Linked DNA regions of Homo sapiens. Changing the gene in region 1 together with any one later gene gives a genetic interaction. Each region holds a gene or a part of one and is shown in the gene's direction. Other genes may lie near its edges.

Region 1 (5,703 bases):
GACACACACACAGACACACACAGATCACATTGGCTCAAAGACTTCATCCTCTCTAAGTTCCATTATTTCCTTTCTCACCAAAACCAAAGACAATCGCTGCCAGGGAATGGAGATGCCCGTGCGTGAAGGCGCAGTTTGGATTCCGATGTTAGAATGGGAGGGAACGTTGTGGTATAGGAAAAATGCCGTGTGTGTCTGAGGAGAGCTACACTGAGGCACCACGCACGTTTGCGCTCTGAGCGAAAGGCTCCGTACCCCTCGCCCTCACACAAAGGGCTTGATCATCTCAGACAGTCCCCACGCCCTTCAGGGTCCTCCGGGAGGGAATGTGGGGTAAAACAGGCACCACCAGGCCGCAAGCCGCTGACAGCCATTCTCCTGTTCGAGTTCCCACTGCCTACATCACGCAGTCATGAGCCTCTTCGCTGGTCCTTCTGCGTCCAGCTCCTCCCGCGTCATCACAAACTTCCAGAAGGGAAATCGCTGGGCTAGACCACTAGGAACTGCTCCTTGGTTCTTTTTTTTTTTTTTGAGACGGAGTCTCACTCTGTCGCCCAGGCTGGAGTGCAATGGCGCAGTCTCGGCTCACTGTAACCTCCACCTCCTGGGTTCAAATGATTCTCCTGCCTCAGCCACCTGAGTAGCTGAGATTACAGGCACCTGTCACCACGCCCAGCTAATTATATATATATATATATATATATATATTTTTTTTTTTTTTTTTTGAGACGGAGTCTGGCTCTGTCGCCCAGGCTGGAGTGCAGTGGCGTGATCTCGGCTCACTGCAAGCTCCGCCTCCCGGGTTCACGCCATTCTCCTGCCTCAGCCTCCCGAGTAGCTGGGACTACAGGCGCCCGCCACCACGCCCGGCTAATTTTTTGTATTTTTAGTAGAGATGGGGTTTCACCGTGTTAGCCAGGATGGTCTCGATCTCCTGACCTCGTGATCCATCCGCCTCAGCCTCTCAAAGTGCTGGGATTACAGGCGTGAGCCACCACGCCCAGCTTGCTCCTTGGTTCGTGATAAACAGTTGCCTTCCAGAAGGGCGGTAGCTGGCCTGCAGTTCCAATTTTCAATCAGGCCAGCTGCCCTTTGCCCCGGCCCCTCCTCTGAGCCCGCAGAGCTTGGAGGCAGATGAGACATGGCCCAGCCTCCCCAACCCTTCCCCACCTCAGCTGGCTCAGCTGACCCCAGGCTCTGCTCCACTCCCCTCTGCAGACTCTGATGAGAAAGTCCTGCCCGTTTCGGAGCTGCTGGACATCGCCTGGCAGGTGGCTGAGGGCATGTGTTACCTGGAGTCGCAGAATTACATCCACCGGGACCTGGCCGCCAGGAACATCCTCGTCGGGGAAAACACCCTCTGCAAAGTTGGGGACTTCGGGTTAGCCAGGCTTATCAAGGTAGGGCCCTCAGAGGGCGTGGCTGGGGTCGTGGCCGGGGCGTGGCCGGAGGGCTGGGGGCTTCCTGTGTGTGGAGCTGGGGACTCGGCTGGGAGCAGGATGCGGCCCCTGCCCTCGGGAGCCCAGGCTGGGCAGGGAGGTGGGAAGCCACCGTGAGTCCGGTGGGGCCCCCATTCTGAATGGCACGCACAGCAGGGCCCACCACGCAGCCGCTGCCTTGTTCACGTGCCTTGTTCACTGGCCCAGCCCTGGGCCCCTCTGACGGCCTGGGAGCCTCCCAGTTCCCTGTCCCCCGGGCCCTCCGGTCCCCACACACCTGCAATCCCAGGGGAAGTTGGGCTCCTGAAGGTGGTCAGGCCCCAGTGTGGCCTTAGCTGCAGCGGCCGTGCGTGGGTCAGACAGTGGGGTCATCACCGTCCCACTGCTGGGGCAATGCGGCCGCTGTGCCCGTCCATGCTTCGGGGGCAGGGCACAGGCAGCCCCCACGGCCCACTCAGCTCCAGGCTGATTGCAGGAGGACGTCTACCTCTCCCATGACCACAATATCCCCTACAAGTGGACGGCCCCTGAAGCGCTCTCCCGAGGCCATTACTCCACCAAATCCGACGTCTGGTCCTTTGGGATTCTCCTGCATGAGATGTTCAGCAGGGGTCAGGTGCCCTACCCAGGTACTGTCCCCACTGTCCCTGACTGGGCATGAGAGGCAGAGTGGGGGAGGTCCTGGGTAGCCGGCAGGGACGCTGGGGGGTGCCTCCCCCACGGGCTTCAGGGCCCTCCGCGGGCCATCGCCTGAACTCCACACCTGCACCATTCTCTGAGCACCCAGGCTGGTGCCTGGAGCTGCCTGTTGGAGCCCTGTCCAGAGGGAGGTGTTAGCAGTGGACAGTGTGCTGGGTGGCGCCAAGGCATGGCAGCTGAGGCTGCGGGGAAGGCCCCAGGAAGGGGCAGTGGATGGCTGGTGTGGCTTCTTGGGGGAGGGTAGGCAGGTGGGCCCCAGCTCTTCTCATCCCTGTCGGCCGCAGGCATGTCCAACCATGAGGCCTTCCTGAGGGTGGACGCCGGCTACCGCATGCCCTGCCCTCTGGAGTGCCCGCCCAGCGTGCACAAGCTGATGCTGACATGCTGGTGCAGGGACCCCGAGCAGAGACCCTGCTTCAAGGCCCTGCGGGAGAGGCTCTCCAGCTTCACCAGCTACGAGAACCCGACCTGAGCTGCTGTGGAGCGGGCATGGCCGGGCCCTGCTGAGGAGGGGCCTGGGCAGAGGGCCTGGACCTGGGATCAAGGCCCACGCGCTTCCCTGGGGTTTACTGAGGTGATGGGTGCAGGAAAGGTTCACAAATGTGGAGTGTCTGCGTCCAATACACGCGTGTGCTCCTCTCCTTACTCCATCGTGTGTGCCTTGGGTCTCAGCTGCTGACACGCAGCCTGCTCTGGAGCCTGCAGATGAGATCCGGGAGACTGACACGAAGCCAGCAGAGGTCAGAGGGGACTCTGACCACAGCCCGCTCTCTGGCTGTCTGTCTGCAGTGCCCGGCTGAGGGTGGGAGGCAAACACGCCTTGTTCCTGCTCTTCCCAGTTCAGCTTGGTGGGAGAAAGTCATTCGCGTGGCTCGGGACGCTCATGTAAATTTGGTTTTGGTGCTCAAGGGTTCTTTCCTCCCAGGGGCAGGTGTTTCTTTCCTGTTTGTCTTGTGTCTTGAGAGCTTGGCCTTATGACCAGTGAGAACTCTCTCCCTGGTCTCTGCCAGCCCAAGCATCACTGCCCGAGGCGCCAGCTCAGTTTCACCGTCCACGTCCACAAGGGGCTTTTCCCACCTTCACCTTTGTCGCTGGGTCAGTGCTGGAAAGCGCCCCTCACTCCTGCGCTGACAAGGGCCCTTCTCTACTGTCTGTGGGGTGGTTCCGGGCTGGGGGGGCTGCCTCCTTTGCACCTGATTTTGAAGGTGTCTCTTTCATCCATGGTTAAGTCATAAAAAGCTTATTGGTTTTGGTTTTGACTCACCTGAAAGTTTTTTTGGTTTAAAAGAAGAATAGGCGGGGCACGGTGGCTCATGCCTGTAATCCCAGCACTTTGGGAGGCTGAGGCAGGTGGATCACGAGGTCAGGAGATCGACACCATCCTGGCTAACACGGTGAAACCCCGTCTCTACTAAAAAATACAAAAAATTAGCTGGGTGTGGTGGTGGGGGTGGGCGCCTGTAGTCCCAGCTACGTGGGAGGCTGAGGCAGCAGACTGGTGTGAACCCGGGAGGTGGAGCTTGCAGTGAGCCGAGATCGCGCCACTGCACTCCAGCCTGGGCGACAGAGCGAGACTCCATCTCAAAAAAAAAAAAAAAAAAAAGAAAGAAAGAAAAATAATTTTGGGAGTTTCTGGAAAGGTACTAGGATTTCTCAAAAGGATTTGTCTTCTGCCTTGTGAAAGACAGATGTCAGACTAATCAGGCTTATCCGATGTGCTACATGAGATGGAAAGCGTGTGAAATAGTAAGTCACACTAAGTCTTCTGGAGGTTCTATTTACGGGTTTGGTTTTGATATGAATGTTGCAGAAACTCTATAAAATTCCTAGAAATCTGATACGTTATCCTATGATATATATCCTATCTCACATGCTATTCCTAGAAATCTGGTGCAATGTTATCAGTCATAATTTTGGTTATTACATTAAAATGCTGCATGCCACAGAAATAACCAAGTTTCCTTGCCAACCGTGTCACGAATATAATAAACTCTCATCAGATCCTGAGCCATGGCTATCTTAAGTCTTCGGTCATTCACAGTTATTATCTTACTTTGATTTTTTCTGAAAGCTTTGCAATCAGCTAGTCCCAAATTGTTTATTCTTCAAAGAGATTCCTGGGAAGGATTCTGACAGGTGCTCTGGAGCACAGGTTTCTGGTTCAGGTCATAGCCTTGGATTGGGTGCAAATTTCCAGAACTCGAAGGAGGGACCTGGCAGGTCCATGAAAGTTCTGTCCCAGGATCAACCAGAACAAGAATTAATGACATGGGAATGAATGAACTGACGAGGATGTTTACTGTTTAATGACTTTTGTCTGAAGCATTACGGTTCTTTAATATTTTGTTTTCCAGATGTAAGAAAACGTTTTTTGTTTCTGTTTTTGTTTTTGAAGACAGGGTCTTGCTCTGTCACCCAGGCTGGAGCGCAGTGGCGTGACCACAGCTCATTGCAGCCTTGAATTCCCAGGCTCAAGTGATCCTCCCGCCTCAGCCTCCTGAATAGTTGGGACTACAGGAATGCACCACCACACCTGGCTAATTTTAAATTTTTTTTTTTTTAGGAGATTCAGGGTCTTGCTATGTTGCCCAGGCTGGTCTCGAACTCCTGGGCTCTAGCAATCCTCCTGCCTCGGGACTACAGGCCTGAGCTGCTGCGCCCAGCCTGGGCACGAAAGCCGTCTGTACGAGAGTTGCTGGGGAAATTTCTCTGAAGTCTGTATCAAGTGGGGCAGCTTCAGCTTACAGGGCTTTGGGAAAAGAGCAGTTTTAATTTTCAGTGACTCCATGAGGAATGGTGGAAGAAAAAATTGGAAAGAGTGGTTTGGTGAGCTGTAGGCAAATATTGGAGGAAACTGAAGTTCAGGACCCGGTCCGGACCACAGGTGGGCGACAAAACCTCCAGACAGCAAACCGGGCTAGAGTCTAATAGTGGGGGCACGAGTTTTATTTTGAAACATAATTTTTCTCTCTACAGTCAACAAATTTCTTTTTCTTTTTTTTTTTTTGAGATAGAGTTTCGCTCTTATTGCACAGGCTGGAGTGCAATGGCTTGATCTCGGCTCACGGCAACCTCTGCCTCCCGGGTTCAAGTGATTCTCCTGCCTCAGCCTCCCGAGTAGCTGGGATTACAGGCATGCGCCACCACGCCCAGCTAATTTTTGTACTTTCAGTAGAGATGGGGTTTCTTCACGTTGGTCAGGTTGGTCTCGAACTCCCGACCTCAGGTGATCCACCCACCTCGGCCTCCCAAAATGCTGGGATTACAGGTGTGAGCCACCGCACCCAGCCAACAAATTTCCTTCTTCCTTTTTTTTTTTGAGATGGAGTCTCGCTCTGTCGCCCAGGCTGGAGTGCAATGGCGCAATATTGGCTCACTGCAACCTCTGCCTCTCGGGTTCAAGTGATTCTCCTGCCTCAGCCTCCCAAGTCTCTGGGATTACAGGTGCCTGCTACCACGCCCGACTAATTTTTGTATTTTTAGTAGAGATAGGGTTTTGCCATGTTGGCCAGGCTGGTCTCGAACTCCTGACCTCAGGTGATCCGCCCACCTCGGCTTCCCAAAG
Region 2 (5,765 bases), on another chromosome or scaffold:
TTTGTCGCCCAGGCTGGAGTGCAGTGGTGCGATCTCAGCTTACTGAAACCTCCTGCCTCTCTGGTTCAAGCTATTCTCCTGCCTCAGCCTCCCGAGTAACTGGGACTACAGGCACCCTCCACCACGCCTGGCTAATTCTTGTTTTAGGTAGAGATGAGGTTTCACCACATTGGTCAGGCTGGTCTCAAACTCTTGACCTCAAGTGATCCACCCACCTCGGCCTCCCAATACTCTGACTTTCTAATGGGTTTTAATATCTGGCAGAGTGGCTTTTTTTGTTGTTAAATCAACCCCTGCAAACATTTATTGTGTGATAAAGTGTATGTTTTATTTGGATTGAGGGAAATTTATAATGAAATACAGAGATTTCATGTTTCTTTTTAAGTTTAATCCAGGTATTTTATATTATTATGACTAGTATCTTTTCTTTTATTATCTTTTCATTTGATGGTTATTTCTATATGGTAAAACTAATGATTTATGCATATAAATTCTATGCCCAGTGAACATAGTATATGCTAAAGATGGTATCTGTATCAAGAGAAAAAATATAGATAATTAAGTAAAAGCTCTTGGGGCAACTGGAAAGCCTTCTGGAAAAAAGGCAACTGAACCTTGTTCTCATATCTTATGACAAGATAATGTTCAGATTAATCATTTTTTTCTAAAAGAGTCCTAAAAGCTCTAGAAGGAACCATGAGAAAATTATTTCATAGCGCCAGAGTAGGGATAACCTTATTTTGACGTAAGTCCCAGGGGCTATGAAAAAGTGATAAACTGTTAAATGAGAGAAAAGATACACGCCAGCCACGGTGGTTCATGACTGTAATCCCAGTACTTTGTGAGGCCAAGGTGGGCAGATCACTTGAGATCAGGAGTTCAAGACCAGCCTTGCCAAATTGGGGAAACTCCATCTCTACTAAAAATAAAAAAAAAAATTAGCTGGCTGTTGTGGTGAATGCCTGTAGTCCCAGCTACTTGGGAGGCTGAGGCAGTAGAATCACTTGAACCAGGGAGGTGGAGGTTGCAGTGAGACAAGATTGTGTCACTGCACTCCAGCCTGAGCAACAGAGACTCCATTCCCTCCCCCCATCAAAAAAGATACAGAATAGTGTCTACAGTAGATGGTGTGCTCCTATATAATTTTTTAAGATGCTTAAAATCAGCCCAGAAAGCATACATTAAAAAAAATAATAACCTGGCAACGTGTGGGGAGAAGTAAATGGCATTGGGCCATAGGAGTGAATTATGTTTTATAGTTTTCAAATTCTGAACCAGATAATTGTAGACGGTATGAAAATTTTAAATAGCCACTGCAAAAGAAGAAAGATTAAGCAGAGAATTCAGCTCCTTTGCTTGATCTTAAATGTTTATAAACGTTTTCCAGTGGGGCCTCTAGTGTTTTCTAAGTATAAAATCACTATCTGCCAAAATGATACATTTACTACCACATTTCAAATTGCCTGACTCTCGTGTTTTTTTGGCTGCATAAATGTCTTCTTTTGAGAAGTGTCTGTTCATGTCCTTCGCCCACTTTTTGATGGAGTTGTTTTTTTCTTGTAAATTTGTTTGACTTCATTGTAGATTCTGGATATTAGCCCTCTGTCAGATGAGTAGGTTGCGAAAATTTTCTCCCATTTTGTACGTTGCCTGTTCACTCTGATGGTAGTTTCTTTTGCTGTGCAGAAGCTCTTTAGTTTAATTAGATCCCATTTGTCAATTTTGGCTTTTGTTGCCATTGCTTTTGGTGTTTTAGACATGAAGTCCTTGCCCATGTCTATGTCTTGAATGGTAATGCCTCGGTTTTCTTCTAGGGTTTTTATGGTTTTAGGTCTAACGTTTAAGTCTTTATTCCATCTTGAATTAATTTTTGTATAAGGTGTAAGGAAGGGATCTAGTTTCAGCTTTCTACATATGGCTAGCCAGTTTTCCCAGCACCATTTATTAAACAGGGAATCCTTTCCCCATTGCTTGTTTTTCTCAGGTTTGTCAAAGATCAGATAGTTGTAGACATGTGGCATTAACTCTGAGGGCTCTGTTCTGTTCCATTGATCTAGATCTCTGTTTTGGTACCAGTACCATGCTGTTTTGGTTACTGTAGCCTTGTAGTATAGTTTGAAGTCAAGTAGCATGATGCCTCCAGCTTTGTTCTTTTGGCTTAGGATTGACTTGGCGATGCGGGCTCCTTTTTGGTGCCATATGAACTTTAAAGTAGTTTTTTCCAATTCTGTGAAGAAAGTCATTGGTAGCTTGATGGGGATGGCATTGAATCTATAAATTATCTTGGGCAGTATGGCCATTTTCATGATATTGATTCTTCCTACCCATGAGCATGGAATGTTCTTCCCTTTCTTTGCACCCTCTTTTATTTCATTGAGCAGTGGTTTGTAGTTCTCCTTGAAGAGGTCCTTCACGTCCCTTGTAAGTTGGATTCCTAGGTATTTTCTTCTCTTTGAAGCAGTTGTGAATGGGAGTTCACTCATGATTTGGCTCTCTGTTTGTCTGTTATTGGTGTATAAGAATGCTTGTGATTTTTGTCCATTGATTTTGTATCCTGAGACTTTGCTGAAGTTGCTTATCAGCTTAAGGAGATTTTGGGCTGAGACAATGGGGTTTTCTAGATATACAATCATGTCATCTGCAAACAGGGACAATTTGACGTCTTCTTTTCCTAATTGAATAACCTTTATTTCCTTCTCCTGCCTAATTGCCCTGGCCAGAACTTCCAACACTTTATGCAGCCAAAAAACACATGAAAAAATGCTCACCATCACTGGCCATCAAAGAAATGCAAATCAAAACCACAATGAGATACCATCTCACACCAGTTAGAATGGCAATCATTAAAAAGTCAGGAAACAACAGGTGCTGGACAGGATGTGGAGAAATAGGAACACTTTTACACTGTTGGTGGGACTGTAAACTAGTTCAACCATGGTGGAAGTCAGTGTGGCGATTCCTCAGGGATCTAGAACTAGAAATACCATTTGACCCAGCCATCCCATTACTGGGTATATACCCAAAGGACTATAAATCATGCGGCTATAAAGACACATGCACATGTATGTTTATTGCGGCACTATTCACAACAGCAAAGACTTGGAACCAACCCAAATGTCCAACAATGATAGACTGGATTAAGAAAATGTGGCACATATACACCATGGAATACTATGCAGCCATAAAAAATGATGAGTTCATGTCCCTTGTAGGGACATGGATGAAATTGGAAATCATCATTCTCAGTAAACTATCGCAAAGACAAAAAAACCAAACACCGCATGTTCTCACTCATAGGTGGGAATTGAACAATGAGAACACATGGACACAGGAAGGGGAACATCACACTCTGGGGACTGTTGTGGGGTGGGGGGAGGGGGAAGGGATAGCATTAGGAGATATAACTAATGCTAAATGATGAGTTAATGGGTGCAGCACACCAGCATGGCACATGTATACATATGTAACTAACCTGCACATTGTGCACATGTACCCTAAAAGTATAATAATAATAAAAAAAAAAAAACAAATTGCATGACTCTCCTTTTTTCCCTTGCCTAATTGCACTTGCTGGTATCTCTAGCATCACGCTAAATAAGAGCAAAACATTGGATCTGGGTATTTTGTTTGTTATTCATTTGCATTTGAGTTTGCTTTCTTGCCATAGACAATATTTATTTTTATGTGAGTTTGTTAATTTTTTACCGCTGGCTTCTGGGTGTTTTCCTCAGAGTATTTATTTTTATCTATTTGGCTAAATTTTCTCTGGTACTTTTCTAATTCTCTGCTTCTCTAATTGTTTTCTGCTTTTTAAAATTCTCAAATGTTTGATCCCCGTGGAGTTTATTTTGTGATAGGGAGAAAAGGTCTCATTTGCAAATAGAAAAGGTGGAGAGTTGTGTATTTGTTCCCTTGATAATGACTGGGGCTGGGGTGTTTCCTTAGGGACGACCTGGCCCAGCTGCCCTTCCTGACCATGTGCGTGAAGGAGAGCCTGAGGTTACATCCCCCAGCTCCCTTCATCTCCCGATGCTGCACCCAGGACATTGTTCTCCCAGATGGCCGAGTCATCCCCAAAGGTGCCCACAGCCTCAGGGGGAGAAGCCTCCCGGGTAGGAAGATGGTTCCCTCAGGGGATCCTTGTCCTGACTGCCCCTTTCTCTCCCACAGGCATTACCTGCCTCATCGATATTATAGGGGTCCATCACAACCCAACTGTGTGGCCGGATCCTGAGGTGCTGCCTTCCCCATTCACCACCACCACCCCCATCCTCTACTTTTGTGTGTGTGTGTGTGAATTCCAAGGTTCCTAGTGGAGGGGGCAGGGTTTTGATGAGGAAAATCCAACATCACCTCACCCCAAAACACACACAAGTGTCTCTCCAAGGCTGCTGGACATAGGAAATCCCACTGGCAAACCTTCTTTGTCTCACCTGCAGGTCTACGACCCCTTCCGCTTTGACCCAGAGAACAGCAAGGGGAGGTCACCTCTGGCTTTTATTCCTTTCTCCGCAGGGCCCAGGTAAGAGCGCCCTGTGTCTGAGGCAGGGATGGGATGATGGGTGCGGGAGTTAAAAAAAGGGGGACGTTGCAGATGGTCCCAGTTCCAGCTCTCCTTCCCTCCATTCCTTCACAGTTTATGGGAAAACGTCCATAGAATGGGGATGAGTAGGTCCTAGAGGGGTCCGCGGAGTGCTCAAAATCCCCTTCTCCATCTGCTGGTCTGAGCTGGGAGCTGGAGTCAGGCCCAGTCTCCGGGACATACAAGCCCACATGGGAGTCCCAGGCACGCTTAGTCTTTCTCTCTCTCTCTCAGGCTGAGCTGGGTGCAGTTGGGGGTCCCAGGCCAGGTTCCTGGGTTGATGGGACCCAAATGCGGGTCTTGGGCACAGTCACAGTCCCCACTCCCGCCTGCAGGAACTGCATCGGGCAGGCGTTCGCCATGGCGGAGATGAAAGTGGTCCTGGCGTTGATGCTGCTGCACTTCCGGTTCCTGCCAGACCACACTGAGCCCCGCAGGAAGCTGGAATTGATCATGCGCGCCGAGGGCGGGCTTTGGCTGCGGGTGGAGCCCCTGAATGTAAGCTTGCAGTGACTTTCTGACCCATCCACCTGTTTTTTTGCAGATTGTCATGAATAAAACGGTGCTGTCACCTCTGCCTGGGCCTCACTGACAGCCTGCAGGGGGCTCTTGGGGACTGGGAGGCTTCAGGGAAGGGGCCTAACCTGGGTGGGTTAGGCGGGATGTTTTCCCTGAAACCAAGAACCTGACTGCCTCTTTGGCTGAGCATAGGGCCTCCATGCTTATAGCAGGGTCTCTCAGAGCCCAAGTATGGACTTTATCCTGTGGACAATGTGGAGCCATGGGAGGTTTTTGAGCAGGAGAGGGACCAGGATTAAGAACGGATTTAAGAGGTACGACTGAGGCTAAGTGAGAAGCAACCATAGGGGCAGATCCTTTCTTTTGGTCTGGGAGTGTCCCAAGACCGAGGTCCCTGGCCAGTTCAGAACACAAGGATAGAAGGGTGCAGCTTATACCCTGGCAGGCTCTCAGGAGTTCTGTTTCCTTTCTTGCTAATGTCCCACCCTATGTCTCCCCCTTCCAGTTGATCGCTTTTGTGACCCCTTTCCCTAACTTCAGGCAGCTCCTATTTTTCCTCTTTTGAGCCCTCTGACTCTGCCCAGGCTGCTTGTCCATCAGCTGCTATCTGAATCCTCCCCCTACTCTCTTCTGCTATGTGCCAGGCACTCTCACAAGTGTCAGG
Region 3 (5,765 bases), on another chromosome or scaffold:
ATTTTTGTCCGGGGACAAAGTTGAGGTATTCATCAAACATTCAAAGGAGTCCACGACCCCAAAGCAACAAGGAACCACTGGAATTGACCAAAGCCCTCTCCACCCAAAGCCTACCCAGCCCCAGTCCTCATTTTCAGAACCCTCCACATGCAGTAAATACATCCTCTTGGGTCCTCCCATAAGCCTCAGTCCCCGGCCTGTATTTGCACCCATACACCAACCCCTCAGAGGAAGCAGACGGGGAAAGGAGCTGGGAGCATGCATTCATTCATTCTCTGAACAAATGTTAATTGGGCATCTCCTATGTGCCAGGTGCAGAGCAAGTGTTAGGGATGGACGGTGAATAAATCAGATTAAGCAAATGGCAGAATACTTTAAAAGCCCAGTTGCTGGCTCCATTTCCTTGAGTTGAAATCAGAGCCCTACCACTTAGTAGCTGTTTGGGCCTGAGCTGGGCCCCTTCCTTCTCCAGCCCCCTGCTGCTCAGAGGGGATCATGATAGCAGCTACTCCATCGGGTGAGGTTCATGGTCAGATGGGTTAATTAATGTATGTCACAGTGCCTGGCACACCTTAAGTACTCCCAAATGGGACTTCTTGTTATTAGTCTAGGGAGGCAAATTGGAGTTGCACAAGCAAATCAGTGTGATAAGCAGTGTGGAAAATTGCAGGGGGCTAAGGAAGGACCTAGCGGGGTAATGGAGGGTGGAACAGCTAGTGGAGGGAACCGCATGGTCAAAAGCCTGGAGGAAGGATATATGTGGGATGAGTGGCCCCCAGACGGGAAGGTCTTGGCTGGGAAGTAGGGATGAAAGAAAAACTTCCAGGCTTAACCGTTTCAGAAGGAGATAGAGAGGAAACGAGCTCCAAGGAGGCTGAAAGCACAGGATGTGGGGCTATGAGGGCAGGAGGCAGTTTGGGGGTGTCATCCCTGAAGGCCAGAGTTTCTTTACAGACTTTTGCAGGCGGGAACCATGTCTCAGGCTGCAAAGGCCTCGGCCTCGGCCACAGTGGCGGTGAACCCAGGGCCTGACACCAAGGGGAAGGGGGCCCCACCTGCAGGAACATCCCCTAGTCCCGGCACTACCCTGGCCCCAACAACCGTGCCTATTACCAGCGCCAAGGCGGCGGAACTGCCTCCTGGGAACTACAGGGTAAGGACCTGGGGGTGCAGTGGCTGGGTGCCATGCCTTCTTTCCTTCCTTCCCTCCTCCTCCTTCTTCTCCTCCTCCTCTTCCTCTTTCACCTCTTACTCCTCCGCACCTCTTTCTCCTCCTTTTTCTTGGCTTATTTTCTCTCCTTTCTATTTACTCTCCCTTTTCTTCTTCTCCACCTCCCCAGACTCTTATCCTCTGTCCCTATTCTCTTTTTCCCTCACCTTGGCCTCCTCCTCCCTCCTCCTTCTGGGACACAAGTGTGGCCCAGCCAATCTGGGAGCCCATAAAATAGCCAGGGGTTCTGACACACTTGGAGAAAGTGGGGCCGGGCGCAGTGGCTCATGCCTGTAATCCCAGCACTTTGGGAGGCCGAGGCAGGTGGATCACCTGAGGTCAGGAGTTCGAGACCAGCCTGGCCAACATGGTGAAACCCTGTCTCTACTAAAAATACAAAAATTAGCCAGGCGTAGTGGTGGGCGCCTGTAATCCCAGCTACTTGGGAGGCTGAGGCAGGAGAATCACTTGAACCCAGGAGGCGGAGGTTGCAGTGAGCTGAGATCATGCCACTGCACTCCAGCCTGGGCAACAGAGGGAGACTCCATCAAAAAAAAAAAGAAAAGAATAGAAAGAAAAAGGGGACCTATAGTTGAGTTGTGCAATAACAACAACCAAACCATACCGCTTCACAGCTGAAGGGACACCTGGCAATCAGGCTACACCTGCACACGCACATGCTTAGAGTTTATCGAAAGCAAGAAAAAAAAAGAAGAAAAGGAAGTGGGCTGGCTTAGCAGCAGGGAACCAGCTGTCCTTGGAGGCTCACTGGGGCAGCAGGATGGCCTCAGACCCTCAAAATTGCTCGAGGTGGTCTGGGCTGAAAGGCATCCTGTGGAGCAAGGTGTCCAGTCCCCTGGGATTTGGTTTGGTGTGGTTTCAACCTCAGGTCACAGAAGTAGGCCATTTTGCAACCCCTAGTTCATGACACGCTCTCATGTGGTCAGTGCGTGGCAGGTTTTTATTTATGTACCTATTTAATCATTAGTTTTATTTAATTTCTAATAATGCAATATGCACCTACAAACCCACCACCCATATAAAAGCCAGGACTTGGTTAAAAACTTTCTACCTAACTCTAAGGTGTCTCCCTTGAGTCCATCATTTTCCTCCCCAACTCCAGGAAATACTGTCCTATCCTCAACCTGTGTCTGTAATCTGCTTGCTTGCTTTTGTATACAATTTTATGCATTATTCCTTTAAAAATGTATACACACATACACATGTATATTTATTTACTTGTTTTATTTATTCATTTATTTTGAGACCGAATTATGAGACGGGTTTTGCCATATTATCCAGGCTGGTCTCGAACTCCTAGCCTCCGCCTCCCCAAGTGCTGGAATTATAGGTGTGAGCCACCGCAACTGGCCGATTTACTTGTTTTTAATTTATTGAAATATGCAATGTGATTATTCTGGGCTTTTCTTTGTACTTTTCACTTACTATGAGATCCCTAATATCCATCCATATTGTTGCGCATGACTGCCGGCCATTCATTCTGGCTGCTGCCTGATATTTCAGAGCGTGACCATCTCTTTCCTGCTAAGCACGATTTCAGTGGTTGCTAGCTTTGCTCTCGTGAACAGCATGGCTTGGACGTTCTTATCCCTGTCTCCTGGTATCGGGGAACCTGCCCCGATATTCACATAGATTCTTTTCTATTTTTCCTAAGCGTCGGCCAGCTTGAGAAATAAAGGGACAGAGTACAAAAGAGAAAAATTGTAAAGCTGGGCGTCCGGGGGAGACATCACATGTCAGTAGGTTCCGTGATGCCCCACAAGCTGCAAAAACCAGCAAGTTTTTATTAGGGAGTTTCAAAAGGGGAGGGAGTGTGAGAATAGGTGTGGGTCACAGACATCAAGTACTTTACAAGGTAATAGAATATCACAGGGCAAGTGGAGGCAGGGAGAGATCACAGGATCACAGGACCGGGGCAAAATTAAAATTGCTAATGAAGTTTTGGGCACCATTGTCATTGATAACATCTTATCAGGAGACAGGGTTTTGAGATCAACCGGTCTGGCCAAAATTTATTAGGCAGGAATTTCCTCTTCCTAATAAGCCTGGGAGAGCTATGGGAGACTGGAGTCTATCTCATCTCTGCAGCGTCGACCATAAGAGACGACCACGCCCAGGGGGGCCAGTTTAGAGACCTAACCCCAGGTGCGCATTCTCTTTCTCAGGGATGTTCCATGCTGAGAAAAAGAATTCAGCGATATTTCTCCCATTTGCTTTTGAAAGAAGAGAAATATGGCTCTGTTCTGCCCGGCTCACTGGCGGTCAGAGTTTAAGGTTATCTCTCTTATTCCCTGAACAATTGCTGTTATCCTGTTCTTTTTTAAGGTGCCCACATTTCATATTGCTCAAACACACATGCTGTACAATTTGTGCAGTTAATGCAATTATCACACGGTCCTGAGGCGACATACATCCTCCTCAGCTGACAGGATTAAGAGATTAAAGTAAAGACAGGCATAGGAAAGCACAAGGGTATTGATTGGGGAAGTGATAAGTGTCCATGAAATCTTTACAATTTATGTTTACAGATTGCAGTAAAGACAGGCATAAGAAATTACAAAAGTATTAATTTGGGGAACTAATAAATGTCCATGAAATCTTCACAATCCACGTTCTTCTGCCATGGCTTCAGCCAGTTCCTCCGTTTGGGGTCCCTGACTTCCCGCAACATCCCGGGGCACACATACAGGAGTTTCTCTTGGGCAACCAAAGGTAGAAGTGGAAGTGCTGGGTCATGGTTATATGAACCTCCCCTCCTCTTACAGCTGGGGAAACTGAGGCTCAAAGAAGGCAGAAAATTGTGCCTTGGTCCATGTGAATGGCAACGTTGTCCCAACTTGGAACAGCAAGTGGACAAGGAACCAAACATGAGGCTTAGTGAGGAGAGAAGATTAGCTCAAGTTTTCCCCTATGTTGTGGAGGGTTGGATTTGCAAGTGTCTCCTGAGCATCAGCTCTGTGGCAGGTACTGGGGCTGGGGCTGGAGATACAGAAATTGATCAACCTCAGGCCCTGCCCTGGAGGAGTCCTTGGTCTTTGGAGGGGCTGGGTAATGGGAGAGAGGGAGTGCAGAGAGAGAGGGAGACCCCAAAGCAAAACAGCAGTGACTGTGTGGTGGGTTAGTTGTGCTGCTAATGGGGAGAGGACAGTGGGGGATGCTCAACCAAGGCCGATGGAGGAAGGGGCAATCAGAGAAGGCTTCCTGGAGAAGGTGGCACCTGAGCCTAAAACAGAATAACGAGCTGGAATGCGTATTAGGGAACTTCAGTTAGGCAGTGGGAGCTCCAAGCTGGATATGTGTGGTGGAGAAGGCATTCCAGGCAGGAGGAATAGCACAAAGAAAGGCCTGAAAGGGAGGTTCATAAGTTCCTAATGATGGCGCAGATCTTAGCTTCAGAATTAGGGCATGAGGCCAGGTGCAATGGCTCATGCCTGTAATCCCAACACTTTGGGAAGCCAAGGCAGGCCAATCATTTGAGCTCAGGAATTCGAGACCAGCCTGAGCAACATGGCAAAATCCTGTCTCTACAAAAAATAGCCAGGCATGGTGGTGGGTGCCTGTAATCTCAACTACTCGGAGGCTGAGGTGGGAGGATCGCTTGAGCCTGGGAGGCGGAGGTTGCAGTGAGCCATGATTGCGCCACTGAACTTCAGCTGGGGCGACAGAGTGAGACTCAGAAAAACAAACAAACAAACAAAAAACAAAAATCAGTAAAGAATTGGGGGATGGGAGGACAGGATCATTTCACAAACTGTGGCTCATCACACTTTTATGTGACTCCTGCACTGCTGGCTTTTATTTATGTAGATACTTAATGAATTTTTGACTCCCCCCTCACTCTGCCCTTGGCATGGGGGCTTCTCTCCTGCAGCTGGTGGTCTTCGAACTGGAAAACTTCCAGGGCCGTCGAGCAGAATTCTCGGGGGAGTGCTCAAATCTGGCAGACCGTGGCTTCGACCGTGTGCGCAGCATCATTGTCTCCGCGGGACCGTGAGTACTGGGCGGCGGAGGGGCACACTCTCTGCCACAGTAAAATGACCACACAACAGTAGCTGCCATTTCTCCAGCATCTGCTCTGTGCCTGCGGCCGTTCGTACTCCTGGCACATACATTATGTCCAATCCTCATATCAAACTGAAGAGGGAGGAATTGTTCTCAATCTCATTTTACGGATGAGGAAACTGAGGCTCGGAGAGGTGATCCAATTAGCATAAGATCACACTGGCAGTAAGCCATGGTTCTGGGCTCTGGAGAAATGCTGCTTCTACTATAGCAAAAACTCTAGCCCGGCCGGGCGCGGTGGCTCACGCCTGTAATCCCAGCACTTTGGGAGGCCGAGGCGGGTGGATCACGAGGTCAGGAGATCGAGACCATCCTGGCTAACAAGGTGAAACCCCGTCTCTACTAAAAATACAAAAAATTAGCCGGGCGTGGTGGCGGGCGCCTGTAGTCCCAGCTACTCGGGAGGCTGAGGCAGGAGAATGGCGTGAACCCGGGAAGCGGAGCTTGCAGTGAGCCGAGATTGCGCCACTGC
Region 4 (5,765 bases), on another chromosome or scaffold:
TCACTTAGGGTGATCAGTCCATGTGATGGTCTTTGGGTGTGTGGCGGGGCCTTTCCAGCCATCTGCTGTGAGTGGCAGAGCTGAAGTGCATTAAAAGCCTAGTGCTGTGTGATCAGTCTGGGTGTGCTCAGCCATGCCACATGGCGAGGATGGCACTGCACCGTCTGGGGTGCTGTTTCCAGGAAAGCCTTCCCTTAAAGCTGGCCACTGGAGTACCTGACTCAGGCTGATAAGGTATTTATAGTTCAAAAAAAGTTGCTGAATGGCAGTAATCCCCTGGTGAGGAACATTCCCCATGGCTGTGCTCTCCAAAGTTTGCCAAGATTGGGTGAAGACGTTCACTGTGACCTTGATTGTAGTGGCAAAACCTGAAACCAAGCTGTACTCATTTGTCAGGGGACTTACAAAGTAGAGTCAGCACATATTCATATACTGTCATCCTGGGCACCAATAGGGATTAGGGAGCTATAGTTGGATTGATCTGCCATGCTGTTCAGGATGGACTGGGAAGTTGAAAAAGGAAGTTGCAGAATTGGTGGGTATGGTAAAGACTCATTTGGTCAAATGAAGGCTGGGTGTAATTGTAATAAAGATAGACACATTTGGCTTGGTGCAGTGGCTCACACCTGTAATCCCAGCACCTTGGGAGGCCGAGGTGGGTGGATCACGAGGTCAGGAGTTCAAGACAAGCCTGGCCAACATAATGAAACCCCATCTCTACTAAAAAAAAATACAAAAAAGTTAGCCTGGCATGGTGGTGCATGCCTGTAGTCCCAGCTACTCGGGAGGCTGAGGCAGGAGAATCACTTGAACCCCAGAGGTGGAGGTTGCAGTGAGCCAAGATCACGCCACTGCACTCCAGCTTGGGCAACAGAGTGAGACTTTGTCTCAAAAAGAAAAAAAAAAAGACACATTTTTCCTCTGGGATGCTTCATTATAACAAACCTTTGACAGTCGGGAAAGGAGACTTGCTTTTTTTTTTTTGAGACAGAGTCTTACTCTGTTGCCCAGGCTGGAGTGCAATGGCGAGTTCTCGGCTCACTGCAACCTCCGCCTCCCAGGTTCAAGCAATTCTCCTGCCTCAGCCTCCTGAGTAGCTGGGATTACAGGCATCCGCCACCACACCCAGCTAATTTTTGTATTTTTAGTAGAGATGAGGTTTCACCATGTTGGTCAGGCTGGTCTCGAACTCCTGACCTCAGGTGATCCACCCACCTTGGCCTCCCAGAGTCCTGGGATTACAGGCATGAGCCACCACACCCAGCCAAGACTTGCTTTTTCTAACCTCTTTTGTCACACGCCTGTGAGGGAGGGTTGAGAAGTTGAACAACTTATTTTATTTCTTTCTGTATTGATGGAAATTTTCCCATGGCAGTTTATTTAAAGAAAAAGTAGGGCCAGGCACAGTTGCTCACATCTGTAATCCCAGCACTTTGGGAGGCAGAGGCAAGAGGATTGCTTGAGGCCAGGAGTATAATACCAGCCTGGGCAACATAACAAGACCCTGCCTTTAACAAAAATTTAAAAATTAGCCAGCTGTGGTGGTGTGTACCTATAGTCCTGGCTGCTTAGGAGGCTGAGGCGGGAGAATTGCTTGAGCCCAGGAATTTGAAGCTGCAGTGAGCTATGATCATACTCCTACATTCCAGGTCGAGCAACAGAGCGAGACCCTGTCGTTAAAACAAAACTAAAAAATACCCAGCAAGGTGCAGTGGCTCTTGTATAATCCCAGCATTTTGGAAGGGTGAATCGGATCACTGCAGGCCAGGAGTTCAAGACTAGCTTGGGCAACCTAGACCCTGTCTCTTTTTTGTTTGTTTGTTTTTTGAGACAGAGTCTCTCTCTTTCACCCAGGCTGGAGTGCAATGGCCTGATCTCGGTTCACTGCAACCTCCGCCTCCCAGGTTCAAGCGATTCTCCTGCCTCAGCCTCCCGAGTAGCTGGGATTACAGGTACCTGCCACCACACCCAGCTAATTTTTGTGTTTTTAGTAGAGATGGAGTTTCACCATGTTGGCTAGGCTGGTCTCGAACTCCTGACTTCATAATCTGTCCACCTCAGCCTCCCAAAGTGCTGGGATTATAGGCGTGAGCCACCGTGCCCAGCCTATTTTTTTTTTTTAATTAAAAAATAATTTATAGTCTGGGTGCTGTGGCTCACACCTGTAGTCCTAGCACTTTGGGAGGCCGAGGTGGGCGGATCACTTCAGGTCAGGAGTTTGAGACCAGCCTGGCCTACATGGCAAAACCCGTCTCTACTAAAAATACAAACAAAATTAGCCAGGAGTAGTGGCAGGCGCCCATAATTCCAGCTACTCAGGAGACTGAGGCAGCAGTATCATTTGAACCCATGAGGTGGAGGTTACTGAGAGCTGAGATGGCGCCACTGCACTCCAGCCTGGGTGACAGAGCGAGACTCTGTCTCAAAAAAAAAAAAAAAATTTATAACTGGGCATGGTGGTGCATGCCGGTAGTCCCAGTTACTTGGGAGGCTGAGGCAGGAGAATCGCTTGAACCCGGGAGGTGGAGGTTTCAGTAAGCTGAGATAGCACCACTGCATGCCAGCCTGGGTGACAGAGCAAGATTCCATCTCCAAAAAAAAAAAAAAAAAAATTAAAAGAAAATTGCTGGATCTTATTAGTGTATAGTAATTTTTTATTGATGTGTGGGAAATTATTCCAAAATTTAGCAACTAGAAGCAACAATCACCGTCTCTTTATGTGGGGAATTTGCAGTGGCTGTGTTTGGTGTAGTGGCTCTGATATTCTAAGGTTGCAGTCAAGATGTTGGCTAAGGATGTGGTCATTTGAAGGCTTCATGGGGGTTGGAGGGTCTGCTTTGAAGATGGCTCACTAGCAGTGCTGCCTTTGGGAGGCACAGACAGTTCGAGTGTCCTCATGACAAGGCAGCTTATTTCTCCCAGAGTGAGTGATCCAATAGAGAGTAAGGCAGATGCCTGGAGGTCTTTTGTGACCTAATATCAGGATTCACATTCTTTCTTTTTTTTATTTTTATTTTTTTGAGACAGAGTTTCACTCTTGTCACCCAGGCCAGAGTACAATGGCGTGATCTTGGCTCACTGCAACCTCCGGTCCCCGGCTCAAGCGATTCTCCTGCCTTAGCCTCCTGAGTAGCTGGGATTACAGGTGCCCGCCACCATGCCCGCCTTTTTTTTTTTTTTTTTTTTTTTAAATTTTTTTAGTAGAGATGGGGTTTCACCATTTTGGCCAGGCTGGTCTTGAACTCCTGATCTCAAGTGATCCGCCTGCCTTGCCCTCCCAAAATGCTGGGATTACAGGGTGAACCACCACGCCCGGCTACACTCTTTGATTTCTATAATACCCCGTTGGTGTTACAGATCAGCTCTGGTCATCATGGGAAGGGACTGCATCAGTGGGTTAATGCCAGGAGACAAGGACCACTGGTCACCATCTTAGAAGGTGGGGGACTATCATAGTCCCGCTTCTGGCGCCTAGTGATTGATTTTGTTCCTTCCACACACAGATACCCCACTCACTTTCTCCTAAGTCCATATTCTGTTACAGTATTAGAAGTCTGTTAGAAGTCTAGAACCTCATTTTGTCAAGTACAGGTGTAGTAGTACCTGCATTTCCTTTAGTACAGTTCCTTTCAATCTGAAGACATGAGAATTTAAAGAGACAAATTACCCCTCACACACCCAGCATACAATGGTGAGGTGGGCATGGGATGACTGGTATGTATGGGATAATTATTTCTTTTCTTTTCTTTCTTTTTTCTTTTTTTCTTTGTTTTTTTTTTTTTTGAGGTAGGGTCTCACACTGTCGCCCAGGCTGGAGTGCAGTGGTGCAGTCACTGCTCACTGCAGCCTCGAACTCCTGGGCTCAAGCAATTCCCCACCTCAACCTTCTAAGTTGCTGGGACTACAGGCACATGTCACCATGCCTGGCTACTTTTTTATTTTTTGTAGAGATGACGTCTTGCTATGTTGCCCAGGCTAGTTTTAAACTCTTGGCCTCAAGTGATCCTCCTGCCTCAGTTTCCCAGTAAGTGCTGGGATTATAGGCATGAGCCACTGAGTCCGGCCTGCATATTTAGGTTTTTATTATGACCACACTGTACTTCTGATACCAAAATCTGTATTAGTTATCTATCATTGTATAACAAATGACATCAAAACTTGGGTTAAAACAGCAATACACTTTTTTTTTTTTTTTTAAGACGGAGTCTTGCTCTGTCGCCCAGGCTAGAGTGCAATGGCGTGATCTCCACTCACTGCAACCTCTGCCTCCTGGATTTAAGCAATTCTCCTGCCTCAGCCTCCCGAGTAGCTGAGATTACAGGCACACGCCACCATGCCTGGATAATTTTTGTATTTTTTTTTTTTAGCAGAGACGGGGTTTCACCATGTTGACTAGGCTGGTCTCGAACTCCTGACCTTGTGATCTGCCTGCCTTGGTCTCCCAAAGTGCCAGGATTACAGGTGTGAGCCACCATGCCCGGCCTAGCAGTAAACTTTTATTACCTCTCACAGTGTCTGTGGGTCAGAAGTTTGGGAGCGGCTTAGCTGGTTGGTCTTGGTTTGGGGATCTCTCATAAGGCTGTAGTCAACATGTTGGCCAGCGCCCCAGTTATCGGAAGTTTTGATGGGTTTGGAGGACCCCCCTCTAAAGTGTCCCATACACAGGAAGCGAGTTGGCTGTGACTTTTGGAAAAAGGCCTTAGTTCGCTGCCGCGTGGGCTTCTTTATGAAACTGTTTGAATGTCTTCACAACATGATAGACAGCTTCCCCAAAGCGAGTCATCCAAGAGAGCAAAGCAGAAACTGCACGTTCTCTGAACTCACTTCTGAAGTCACATTTCACCCCTTTTTGCAGTCTCTGGATGGGTGCATAGGTCACCCCTCCCAGCACAGGCGGAAGCTATGCAGAGGCATGAATTCCAGGAAGCAAGGATCACTGGTGTCTGATTGGAGACTGGCTGCGGGTCTGATACTCCTTTCCCCAGCATAGCCCAGTCACAGTTTTCAACATTTCACATCTCTTGGTCTCTGGCATAGCAGATTCTGCCGAGTTATCCCTGGTTTTGCAAATTCTGACAGTGTCGCTGTAAGGTAGGGATGTCTCACTGTTGTAACCAGGAAAGAGTCTAGTTGGTGGTGAGTGTGGCAGGGACCAGTGTGGTCTCCAGAGACTCCTATGCCTTGTGTAGTGGCTCACGCCTGTAATCCCAACACTTTGGGAGGTCAAGATGGGAGGATTATTTGAGGCCAGGAGTTAGAGACCAGGCTGGGCAACGTAGCAAGACGCTGTCTCTACAAAAAATAAAATAGGCTTTGCGTGGTGGCTCATGCCTGTAATCCAAGCGCTTTGGGAGGCCGAGGCAGGTGGATCACCTGAGGTCAGGAGTTTGAGACCAGCGTGGCCAACACGGCGAAACCCCATCTCTACTGGAAATACTAAAAATTAGCTGGGCAGGGTGGCAGGTGCCTGTAATCCCAGCTACTTGGGAGGCTGAGGCAGGAGAATTGCTTGAACCCTGGAGCCTGGAGGCGGAGGCTGCAGTGAGCTGAGATCGTGCCGTTGTACTCCAGCCTGGGCGACGGAGTGAGACCCTGTCTCAAAAAAAAAAAAAAAAAGGCTAAAGCAGAGCATTTTGTTCTGTTTTTGGAGTCAGGGTCTTCCTCTGTCACCTAGGCTGGAGGTGCAGTGTTGCGATCTTGGCTTGCTGCAGCCTCAACTTCCTGGACTCAAGCAATCCTCCTGTCTCAGCCTTGAGCCACCCTGC

The links.
Region 2: changes in PTK6 (region 1) and CYP4F12 together harm fitness more than expected from each alone (negative genetic interaction), as found in Homo sapiens cells (one large-scale study listed by BioGRID).
Region 3: changes in PTK6 (region 1) and CRYBB1 together harm fitness more than expected from each alone (negative genetic interaction), as found in Homo sapiens cells (one large-scale study listed by BioGRID).
Region 4: changes in PTK6 (region 1) and GPI together harm fitness more than expected from each alone (negative genetic interaction), as found in Homo sapiens cells (one large-scale study listed by BioGRID).

Annotation. Positions count from the first base shown.
Region 1 is NC_000020.11:63,526,443-63,532,145, reverse strand, and holds the end of PTK6 (protein-tyrosine kinase 6), read left to right. Parts: intron 1-1,218; coding exon 1,219-1,400; intron 1,401-1,914; coding exon 1,915-2,068; intron 2,069-2,422; coding exon 2,423-2,610; 3' UTR 2,611-4,145; downstream 4,146-5,703. UniProt on the Homo sapiens protein: Non-receptor tyrosine-protein kinase implicated in the regulation of a variety of signaling pathways that control the differentiation and maintenance of normal epithelia, as well as tumor growth.
Region 2 is NC_000019.10:15,691,991-15,697,755, forward strand, and holds the end of CYP4F12 (cytochrome P450 4F12), read left to right. Parts: intron 1-3,945; coding exon 3,946-4,079; intron 4,080-4,170; coding exon 4,171-4,235; exon of another isoform or gene 4,236-4,439; coding exon 4,440-4,522; intron 4,523-4,917; coding exon 4,918-5,095; 3' UTR 5,096-5,184; downstream 5,185-5,765. UniProt on the Homo sapiens protein: A cytochrome P450 monooxygenase involved in the metabolism of endogenous polyunsaturated fatty acids (PUFAs).
Region 3 is NC_000022.11:26,611,528-26,617,292, reverse strand, and holds part of CRYBB1 (beta-crystallin B1), read left to right. Parts: intron 1-954; 5' UTR 955-973; coding exon 974-1,153; intron 1,154-5,102; coding exon 5,103-5,221; intron 5,222-5,765. UniProt on the Homo sapiens protein: Crystallins are the dominant structural components of the vertebrate eye lens.
Region 4 is NC_000019.10:34,370,965-34,376,729, forward strand, and holds part of GPI (glucose-6-phosphate isomerase), read left to right. Parts: intron 1-5,765. UniProt on the Homo sapiens protein: In the cytoplasm, catalyzes the conversion of glucose-6-phosphate to fructose-6-phosphate, the second step in glycolysis, and the reverse reaction during gluconeogenesis.